Homo sapiens: one gene and its partner. The protein of the gene in region 2 purifies or fractionates together with the protein of the main gene of each other region. This does not show direct contact. Each region holds a gene or a part of one and is shown on either strand. Other genes may lie near its edges.

Region 1 (4,489 bases), on a different chromosome or scaffold from region 2:
GGTGAAGTTACCGTGGTATCAGTGAAACTTAAATCCTTAGGCCACTTCATTTTATGGGGTACTTCCAAGTGCTGTACATGATTTTTTTATTTGTAATTTTTCATTCTTCTAAAAAAGGTTCCCAAAATTTTGTAAGTTTAAGGCCCCACAAAACCTAGATCTGCCCCATCCTCTGAAACCTGTTTCTCTAATATATAAGCTGATGTTTTTAAATAACATGGCTCTGAATTAAATTTTGCTTTTTTTCTAATTGAAGTAATTATAATAATTAGAGATGTGAAAATTATTTTAGTTAGGTTCTTTTCATGAAAAGGAATATAGGCCCATCCAGGGACTCTCATGGAAAATGATGTTTATATAAGGCTATGCAGAACCATTTTCCAAACCGTCCAGGACTTAGGGATAGCTATTCTCTCTCTCTCTCTCTCTTAGAGGATTTGTGGTCTCTCACTCATGGTCTGTTTCTTGTCAGTTTCTTGCATTCTGCTCTCTTTACACCTAAACTTCTTCATAATCTTACCTTGTATATGCACATCAGTGGTTCAACTTCATAATTAATTAAACCAGTTAACCCTTTAATTCCCCATTCTTTGATGAGGAATGTGATTGGCTCAGCTCATATGTTCAAGTCAGACCATTTCAGTCAGATTACTGACTAGCCTAAAATAAAACTTGGATGGGTGCCTATCCTTAATCCAATAGTTGTGCAGAGAGGGAGCAGAAAACAGGGTCATCTGATAAAAACTATGACTAGAGGGGTGGCAGAATCTGTGCAGAGAGTAAACTTCTTAAATGGCGCAGCTCAGCGGGCAAGCCTAGTAATTCTGTTTATTAAAATAGAATGTGTAGGAGGCTGAGGTGGGAGGATGGCTTGAGGCCAGGAGTTTGAGGCTGCAGTGCACTGTGATTGTGCCTGTGAATAGTCACTGTACTTCAGTGTGGGCATCATAGTGAGACCGTCTCATAAAAAACAAAACAATGTGGAAGGTTGTTGTTATTTTGCTCTACTTTGGTTCTAGAAGGATACAGGAAATAAAAGGGAAACCAGAGTGAACACAGAGGTTAAGGTAGGCTCCCAGGGATGAACCTAGGGGAAAGCAGGATTCATTTGTTTATCCTTCTTTCCTTCCTGCCTGCCTGCCCTGACTATGTCTTGATGTTAGTTGTTCTGGGTTGATTTTTCCTAGAGGTTTAGGTGTGGCCTTTCAATATGTAGGTTTTTAAAAAACAAGCTTTTGTTATTTATCTTTGTGTTTACATTTACATGTCTGTGTATTCCTTGTAGTTTTTGTCTGTTTTCTACTGCATGTATAATTGCAGAATTTGGTTTTATTTGGTCTTTAGCTAAAATATTCTTTTACTTCTAACACTTTCCTGAGTTTTGTCATATTGTTTCCGTTTTACTAATTCTGAATTATGCTGTTCCTTCATATCATTTTCTTTTCGTTCATTTTTGAATTTTAGGTTATAGCTTTTTTTCTGGAGTGCTTTTATTGTCAACAGGAATGCTATAGGTCTTTCTCTTTTATCTTATATAATAGGCTTATTTGGAATTCAACTGCAGTTCTGTTGAATCTGCAGGTAACAGTTTTGATTTTTAAGCTTCAGACTCCTTTATTATTTATACCATTTTAGTTTAAATGTGCTTTAATATTTAAGCTTTTTTGGGAGGGGGAGGGGGGATGGAGTCATCTTGCTCTGTCACCCAGGCTGGAGTGCAGTGACACGATCTCGGCTCACTGCATCCTCCGCCTCCCGGGTTCAAGTGATTCGTCTGCCTCAGCCTCCTGAGTAGCTGGGACTACAGGCGCGTGCCACCACGCCCGGCTAATTTTTGTATTTTTAGTAGAGACAGGGTATCACCATATTGGCCCCTCGAACTCCTGATCCCATGATCCGCCCGCCTTGGCCTCCCAAAGTGCTGTGATTACAGGTGTGTGCCACCGCGCCCGGCCAATATTTAAGCTTTTCACATAAAATATAATTTTGGTTATTTTTGTTTTTTCTCAATAATGTATAGAGATTGAATCACTAATGAATAGTCTCAAATCAAGAAATCCACCTTGTTTGCATAAGTAAAAAAGATTCTCATTACCAAAAGCATGTTCTGTGAAGTACTCACAAGATAAAATAAAACAGACTTAGGCAATGATCCTCTTATTGGTATTTTATCAGTATATATAATGTTCTATAAACTTCAGTTCTAATTTGAAGAAACTTTTTTTTTTTAAACTGGACATGATGGCTCATCCCAGTAGTCCCAGCTGTTCAGGAGGTTGGGGTGGGAGGATCGCTTGAGCCCAAGAGTTTGAGGCTGCAGTGAGTTATGATCGAGCCTCTGCACTCTAGCCTGGACAATGGAGCAAGACTCTGTCTCCAAAAATACATAAATAAAATAAATAAAAAATGAATAAATAACAAAGAAACGTATTTCTTTTTCCTAGGCTAGGTTTTCCAAATTTATTAGATAGCTGAATCTCTTTTTCATCATAACACAAAGAGCAAGTATTCCCAGGGAATACAGTTTGGAGATTGCCACTACAGGCAGTGATTCTTACCCATCTCCATTCTGTTGTTGTTGGTTTGTTTTTTAATTTAAATGTCTTATTGCTTGCTACATTTTACTTAATGTCAAGGGTTAATTCATTTGAATATTATTTAATTTAATGGTTTATTACCTTTGTAGTTGAACATTTTGCAGCATTGACATCATATTCTACCTTGAAGTCATGGAACTTTAGCCAAATTTTAATATGCATCATTTTTAAGTATTATTTTTACACTTTGTTTTTCTGAGAATATATATTTAAAACATCTCCTGGTTTTAAGATTTGGTTTTATAAAATTACATGTTCTATAGATGACCTGTATTTTATTTCAAAATATCTCTTCTCTAGATTCTTCTGCACAGTCAGTATCCTCGGGAGTTCGTGCACCATCTCCTGCCCCATCATCAGTACCGTTAGGGTCAGAAAAGCCCAGCAATGTGTCTCAGGACAGGAAAGTTCCAGTCCCTATTGGGACTGAACGTTCTGCACGTATCAGGCAAACTGGAACGTCAGCTCCATCTGTTATTGGGAGCAATTTGTCTACATCAGTAGGACATAGTGGCATCTGGTCCTTTGAAGGGATTGGTGGCAATCAAGGTAGGATATTCTGTCCTGCTCTCTAGAAATTAACTTAATGCATTTAACTATAATGTAAACAGTATTTAACTTTAATAGTCATTTCCTTTTTTTTTTTCTTTTTTTGAGATGGAGTTTCACTTGTTGCTCAGGCTGGAGTGCAATGGGGTGATCTTGGTTCACTGCAACCTCCACCTCCCCGGTTCAAGCGATTCTCCTGCCACAGCCTCCCAAGTAGCTGGGATTACAGGCATGCGCCACCATGCCCAGCTAATTTTTTTTTTTTGAGACGGAGTCTCGCTCTGTAACCCAGGCCGGACTGCAGCGGCACAATCTCTGCTCACTGCAAGCTCCGCCTCCCGGGTTCATGCCATTCTCCTGCCTCATCCTCCCAAGTAGCTGAGACTACAGGCGCCCGCCACCACGCCCGGCTAATTTTTGTATTTTTAGTAGAGACGGGGTTTCACCGTGTTAGCCAGGATGGTCACGATCTCCTGACCTTGTGATCCGCCCGCCTCGGTCTCCCAAAGTGCTGGGATTACAGGCGTGAGCCACTGTGCCCCGCCTGTATTTTTAGTAGAGACAGGGTTTCACCATGTTGATCAGGCTGGTATCAAACTCCTGACTTCAAGTGACTCACCCACCTCAGCCTCCCAAAGTGCTGGCATTACAGGCATGAGCCACCACGCCCAGCCTCGTAGTCATTTCTAAAAGATCTGTATTCCTATTTTTTTTGTTATGTGAATATTTAATCACTTCTTTATGAGCTCTGTCCCCATGTGACCTTTCTCATTACATGTATTTATTACTGCTTTCAGAAAATATCTAATGCAAGCATGTTCTTTTCTTCCTTTCATCATATTAAGGACATAATAATATTTCCTTTCAGTCCCTTTAGGTTGTACTTAGGTTTTTTTCTTTTGTTTTATAACACCAAGTTTTTAGATTATTTCATTAAGCTATTATGTCACTACTTACAAACCATGGAAATATTGCTGTAAATATATAAAAGTAGGTCATTATATTGAAATAATTTACGGTTCAATGTGGAAAATATTAGAAAAACAAAATATTTGATTTTGATTTTAAATATTATCTATTTTTGTTTTGCCTCTTTGTTTGCCCTCAGACAAAGTAGACTGGTGTAACCCTGGGATGGGAAATCCTATGATCCACAGACCGATGTCTGACCCAGGAGTATTTTCACAACATCAAGCAATGGAGCGAGATAGTACAGGAATTGTAACTCCTTCTGGTACATTCCATCAGCATGTTCCTGCAGGCTACATGGACTTTCCTAAAGTTGGGGTAAAGTCCTGATTTTGTACTAGTTATTTAAGGGAGGATTTTCTGAGAAAATGTTT
Region 2 (5,479 bases):
TGATGTTCTCCAGGTTCATCCATGTTTTTGCAAATGACAGAATTTCCTGCTTTTTATGGCTAAATAGTATTCCCTTGTGTAAATATACCTGCATATATACCACATTTTCTTTATCCATTTATTCATTGTTAGACGCGTAGGTTGATGCCATATCTTGGCTATTGTGAATAATGCTGCAATAAACATGGGTATGCTGATATCTCTTTGACATACAGATTTCATTTCCTTTGGAGATATATTCCCAGTAGTGGGATGGCTGGATCATATGGTAGTTCTATTTCTAATTTTTTGAGGAACCTCCATACTGTTTTCCATAATGGCTGTGCCCATTTACATTCTCACCCACAGTGTGTAAGCGTTCCCCTTTTCTTGCCAATACTTGTTAACATTTGTCTTTCCAGTAGCCACCCTAACAGGTATGAGCTAATATCTTATTGCGGGTTTAATTTTCATTTCCCTGATGATTAGTGATGTTGAGTATTTTTTCATAAACTGTTGGCCATTTATATGTCTTCTTTTGGGATGTGCCTGTTCAGGTCCTTTGCCCATCTTTTAATCAGGTTTTTTTTTGCTGTTGAGTTGTTTGACTTCTGCATACATTTTGGATCTTAATCTCTTATCATATATATGGTTGCAAATATTTTCTCTCATTCTACAAGATGTCTCTTCACTTTGTTGATTGTTTCCTTTTCTGTGCAGAAGCTTTTTAGCTTGACATAATTTCATTCGTTCATTTTTGCTTTTGTTACCTGTGCTTTTGAGGTCATATCCCAAAAAAAATCATTGCTCAGATCAGTTTCACAGAGCTTTCCCCCTATGTTTTCTTCTATTTGTTTCATAGTTTAGGATCTTACATTTAAGTCTTTAATCTGTTTAGAGTTGATGTTTGTATAATGGTTTGAGATAAGGGTCTAATTTCATTTTTCTGCATATGGATACCTACTTTTCACAACAGTATTTTTTGAAGAGTCTCTCTTTTCCCCATTGTATGTTCTTGGTACCCTCCTCAAAACTCGGTTGGTTATAAATATATGGATTTATTCTGGGCCTCTCTATTCTGTTTCTTTGGTCTATGTGTCTGTTTTTATGTCAGTACCTTGTTGTTTTGGTTACTATAGCTTTGTAGTATATCTTGAAGTCAGATAGTTTTGATGAGTCCAACTTTGTTCCTTTTGCTCAAGATTGCTTTGGCTATTTGGGTCTTTTGTGGTTCTATACAAATTTTAGCATTTTTGTTTTTTTCCTGTTTCTGTAAGGAATGTAGGACAGAAATTCTTAACCTGAGTTCCTGTGACTCCATTTATGGTCTCAGGGACCAAAAGCTCTTGAAATAAAATATTGAAGTATTATAGAAATTTATAAATGTGGGTTTTAGGGGGAGAAATAGTGTATCATTTCATAAGATTATCAAAAAAATTTATGTGACCCATGAGGTTTGGATCCATTGATCTAGATAGAACATTGGTTCTCAGCTGGGGTGATGTTTAGAAACTTTCGGTTGTCATGCTGTCGGGGAGGGTGCTACTTAGATCTAATGGATAGAGGTCAGGAATGCTGCTAAACATTGTGTTATGCACAGGATAGCTCTCCCCACTCTCCCATCTAAGAATTATCCAGCACAATATGTCAGTAGTGCCTAGGGTGAAAAACTGTAGTCCAGAATCAAAAGATTGTGATATCTGGAATGACATTGTAAATGATCTTGTATAAAATAAGTGTCCTATAATACAGAAATCATTAAGCTAATCATACTAGACTCAAGTGATAGAGTATTACACAGGTAATAAAATGATGTCTATAAGGAATTATGAAAAGAAAAATATTTGATATATCATTAAGCAATATTCATGCTATGAACAATAATACTCAAGAAAATGTTACATGGGGCGGGGCGCGGTGGCTCACACCTGAAATCCCAGCACTTTAGGAGGCTGAGGCAGGCAGATCATTTGAGGTCAGGAGTTTGAGACCAGCCTTGCCAACGTGGTGAAACCTTGTCTCTACTAAAAATATAAAAACTAGCCGGGAGTGGTGGCAGGCGCCTATAATCCCAGCTACTCAGGAGGCTGAGGCAGGAGAATTGTTTGAACCTGGGAGGCTGAGGTTGCAGTGAGCCGAGATCAGGCCACAGCACTCCAGCCTGGGTGACAGAGTGAGACTCCACCCCTGCCCCCCAAAAAGAAATTGTTATGTTTTATATGAATCCCATATACTAAGATAGGGTTTTTGTATAAGAATTCTATAAGAATTCTATCTGAAGGCATTCTATAAGAATTATATCTAAAATAATATTTTAATTGGTTATTTGGTGAAGAAGGGAACCAAGCATGGTGGTGTATATTTCACAAATTTTCTCACATAGTTTGCAAATGCCACTTATCTGCATTGTGTTCATTCAAAGAAGAATCTTGATAATGAGAATATCTAATTATATTGGTGAGATACAGCTAAAGGATATTAGAACTAGCTGATGTTATTTGTTGTAGTCACTTTAACCTCTTTTGTTGAATCTCGTGACAGGCTCAGGTTTTTTTCCTGATAACTCTGTTTTTATTTTTTACTTCAAAAGTAGAAATAGACTATCATTAATGCATACAAGACATTGGTTGGGGACTTGTAGACAATTTTTTCTAGAGATTGCTCCAACATACATAGAAAAACATAGACATCTTAGTGTTGGTCAAGAATTGGAAAATAAAGGAAACAAACTTGTTAAGTAAAAACAACAGTTCATTAGAGTATGCTGATTTCCCACCCCAAGTTCAAAGGGAGATATCTAAATAAAAAGTGTCTTTCATCTAATTTGGAGAAGTTTCCTCATAGGAAAGAAATGTGTATGTACATTTATATATGTCCATATATAGAGATGCATACACACACACACACACATATATATATATAAATATATATATACACACACACATATATATATACACACACGTGTGTGTGTGTGTGAATATAACTATATATATTCCAAGTTAATGCTTGGATGTAGTTACAATTTTTTTTTATATGAAGGCTCGCTCTGTTGCCAGGCTGGAGTGCAGTGGCACGATCTCAGCTTACTGCAACCTCCGCCTCCTGGGTTCAAGCGATTCTCATGCCTCAGCCTCCTGAGTAGCTGGGATTATAGGCATGCACCACCACACCCAGCTAATTTTTGTATTTTTAGTAGAGACGAGGTATCACCATGTTGGCCAGGTTGGTCTCGATCTCCTGACCTCGTGATCTGCCTGCCTCAGCCTCCCAAAGTGCTGGGATTACAAGTGTGAGCCACCGTGCCCGGCCATGAAATGCTCTTAAGCAAAAAGAAGAAAATTGGAGCTACAATACACAGAGGAGAACTCTTAACATGTATATAATTTTCTAAATTTTTTTCTATTAATGTCTGTTAGTCTTTTTATTAGTATTTCTATATACATATATTTTACAAATGTAATCATATTATCTATCCTGTTTTGTAACCTGATTTTTCTGTTAATCATATATCTTGAACGTTTAATATTTACTTTGTATTCTATTAAGTGGATGTTCTGAACTGTATTAACCAACTGGCTTTTGCTGAATTTAGAATGCTGAACACTGTCAGTGCAATTTGGTGCAAACACTGCCAGTGCAAATATGCTTTCCAGTTCTCATGCCTTCCCCCACTGCACCCAATCCTGATTTCACAAAGAGGTTCTGGTTTGGATGATGCAATCCCTTCTCAGCTCTGAAAGGTGGGACTGGGGGAGGAGGATCTGCTAAGGGCAGGATCAGAGGTCCAGACCTAGGCCAAGATAGGTATCCCAAGAATGGAGGACTGGCTGGAAGCCACAACTTCAAGGCAGAAATGCCTGTGCTCGGCATTCATGCTTCTGCCGCAGGTTCCCTGGGATGCAGGCGAGAGCTTGGTTTCATCCCTACTCCACCCGTTCACTGCCAGCTATTTGTGAGAGAGTGTGTGTGGGGGCAAGGGGAGTGATGGGAGAAGGGTGGAAGTGTGCGTGTTAGCAGGAGTAGTTGAGAAATAGGAACGGAGGATAAAATAGTTATTTGCTTTTGAGACACAGCTTTAATTGTGGCCTTTTTGTTGTTGTTGTTTTCCAGGGGAGAAGCCCGAGGAAGATTGACCAGTTTTGTAATTCTAGCAACATGGTCCATGTAAGTTTGTATTTCTCTCTTTTCCTTGAAATATGGTGACTTTCAGGTTAGGTGACTGTTATTATTTAACCTGAAGCTTCGTACCTAGAATTCACGATCTTACACCCCAGTTTGTCCCATTACAGTGAAGGTTGGTGACAAAAAAAAAAAAAGTCACTGCTCTTCCTATTTGTACCTCTGTTTCCTACTGGCTTTGATGTTTTCTTTGAAAAAGTTATTCAGTCTGTGCTCTGTGCTCAGACCTTGGTCAGGAAGAATATTGGAACAGTGGAGGAATCAGTCCCCACAGGGAAACAGGGTCTTATGGGTTTGATAAGTTACAGATGATTGACCACACTTGGGAACACTTTGAAACTTTACAGACTAGAGCTTTCCAGGTAGCTAAGGTAGAATTCCATAGTGAGTAGCCTCAGTCTGCAAGTGTGACAAGGTGATCTGCTTTATGAGGCTTTTAGGAAAATGATAGGTGAGGACAGTGGGCAGTAGCAGGGAGAAGATAATTCAGGGCATGAATGATAGGTGATTACAGATTCTCTGGCTGGACATGGTGGCTCACGCGTGCAATCCCAGCACTTTGGGAGGCCGAGGTGGGTGGTGGATCACTTGAGGTCAGGAGTTTGAGACCAGCCTGGCCAACATGGTGAAACCCCATCTCTTCTAAAAAAAGAAAAAAAAAAATTAGCCTGTTGTGGTGGTGCGCACCTGTAATCCCAGCTGCACAGGAGGCTGAGGCAGGAGAATCGCTTGAACCTGGGAGGTGGAGGTTGCAGTGAGCTGCGATCGTGCCACTGCACTCCAGCCTGGGTAACAGAGTGAAATTCTGTCTCAGAAAAAAAATAAAAAATAAAAAATTCTCAGAATTGGGGAAATCCTTAGAGGCCCTGGCCATCCTCAACGTATAAATAGAAAAAAAATGAATAAATCTAATATGTGAGTTCTATTGACTTTAATGCAGCTTATAAAAATCAGTTGTCATGACAAGAAAAAATACTTTTGCTGTCATCTCATACCATAATGAACTTGAGGATTAAGAACATTCTTTAATTGTATGCCACCTTTTTTTTTTTTTTTTTTTTTCTCTGAGACAGAGTCTTGCTCTGTGGCCCAGGCTGGAGTGCAGTGGCGTGATCACAGTTCACTATAGCCTTGAACTCCTGGGCTCAAGCAATACTCCTACCTCAGCCTCCCGAGTAGCTGGGACTACAGGTACGTGATACCACACACAGTTACTTATTTAATTTTTGCAGAGATGGGATATCATTATGTTGCCCAGGCTGGTCTCAAATTTCTAGGCTCAAGCAATCCTCCTATCTCTGCCTCCCAAAGTGCTGGGACT

Evidence for each region.
Region 1: the proteins of ZNF780A (region 2) and ANKRD17 purify together in Homo sapiens (affinity purification with mass spectrometry; one large-scale study listed by BioGRID and IntAct). This does not show direct contact.

What each region holds. Positions count from the first base shown.
Region 1 is NC_000004.12:73,077,299-73,081,787, reverse strand, and holds part of ANKRD17 (ankyrin repeat domain-containing protein 17), read left to right. Parts: intron 1-2,897; coding exon 2,898-3,146; intron 3,147-4,254; coding exon 4,255-4,433; intron 4,434-4,489.
Region 2 is NC_000019.10:40,083,409-40,088,887, reverse strand, and holds part of ZNF780A (zinc finger protein 780A), read left to right. Parts: intron 1-4,089; coding exon of another isoform or gene 4,090-4,134; coding exon 4,135-4,143; intron 4,144-5,479.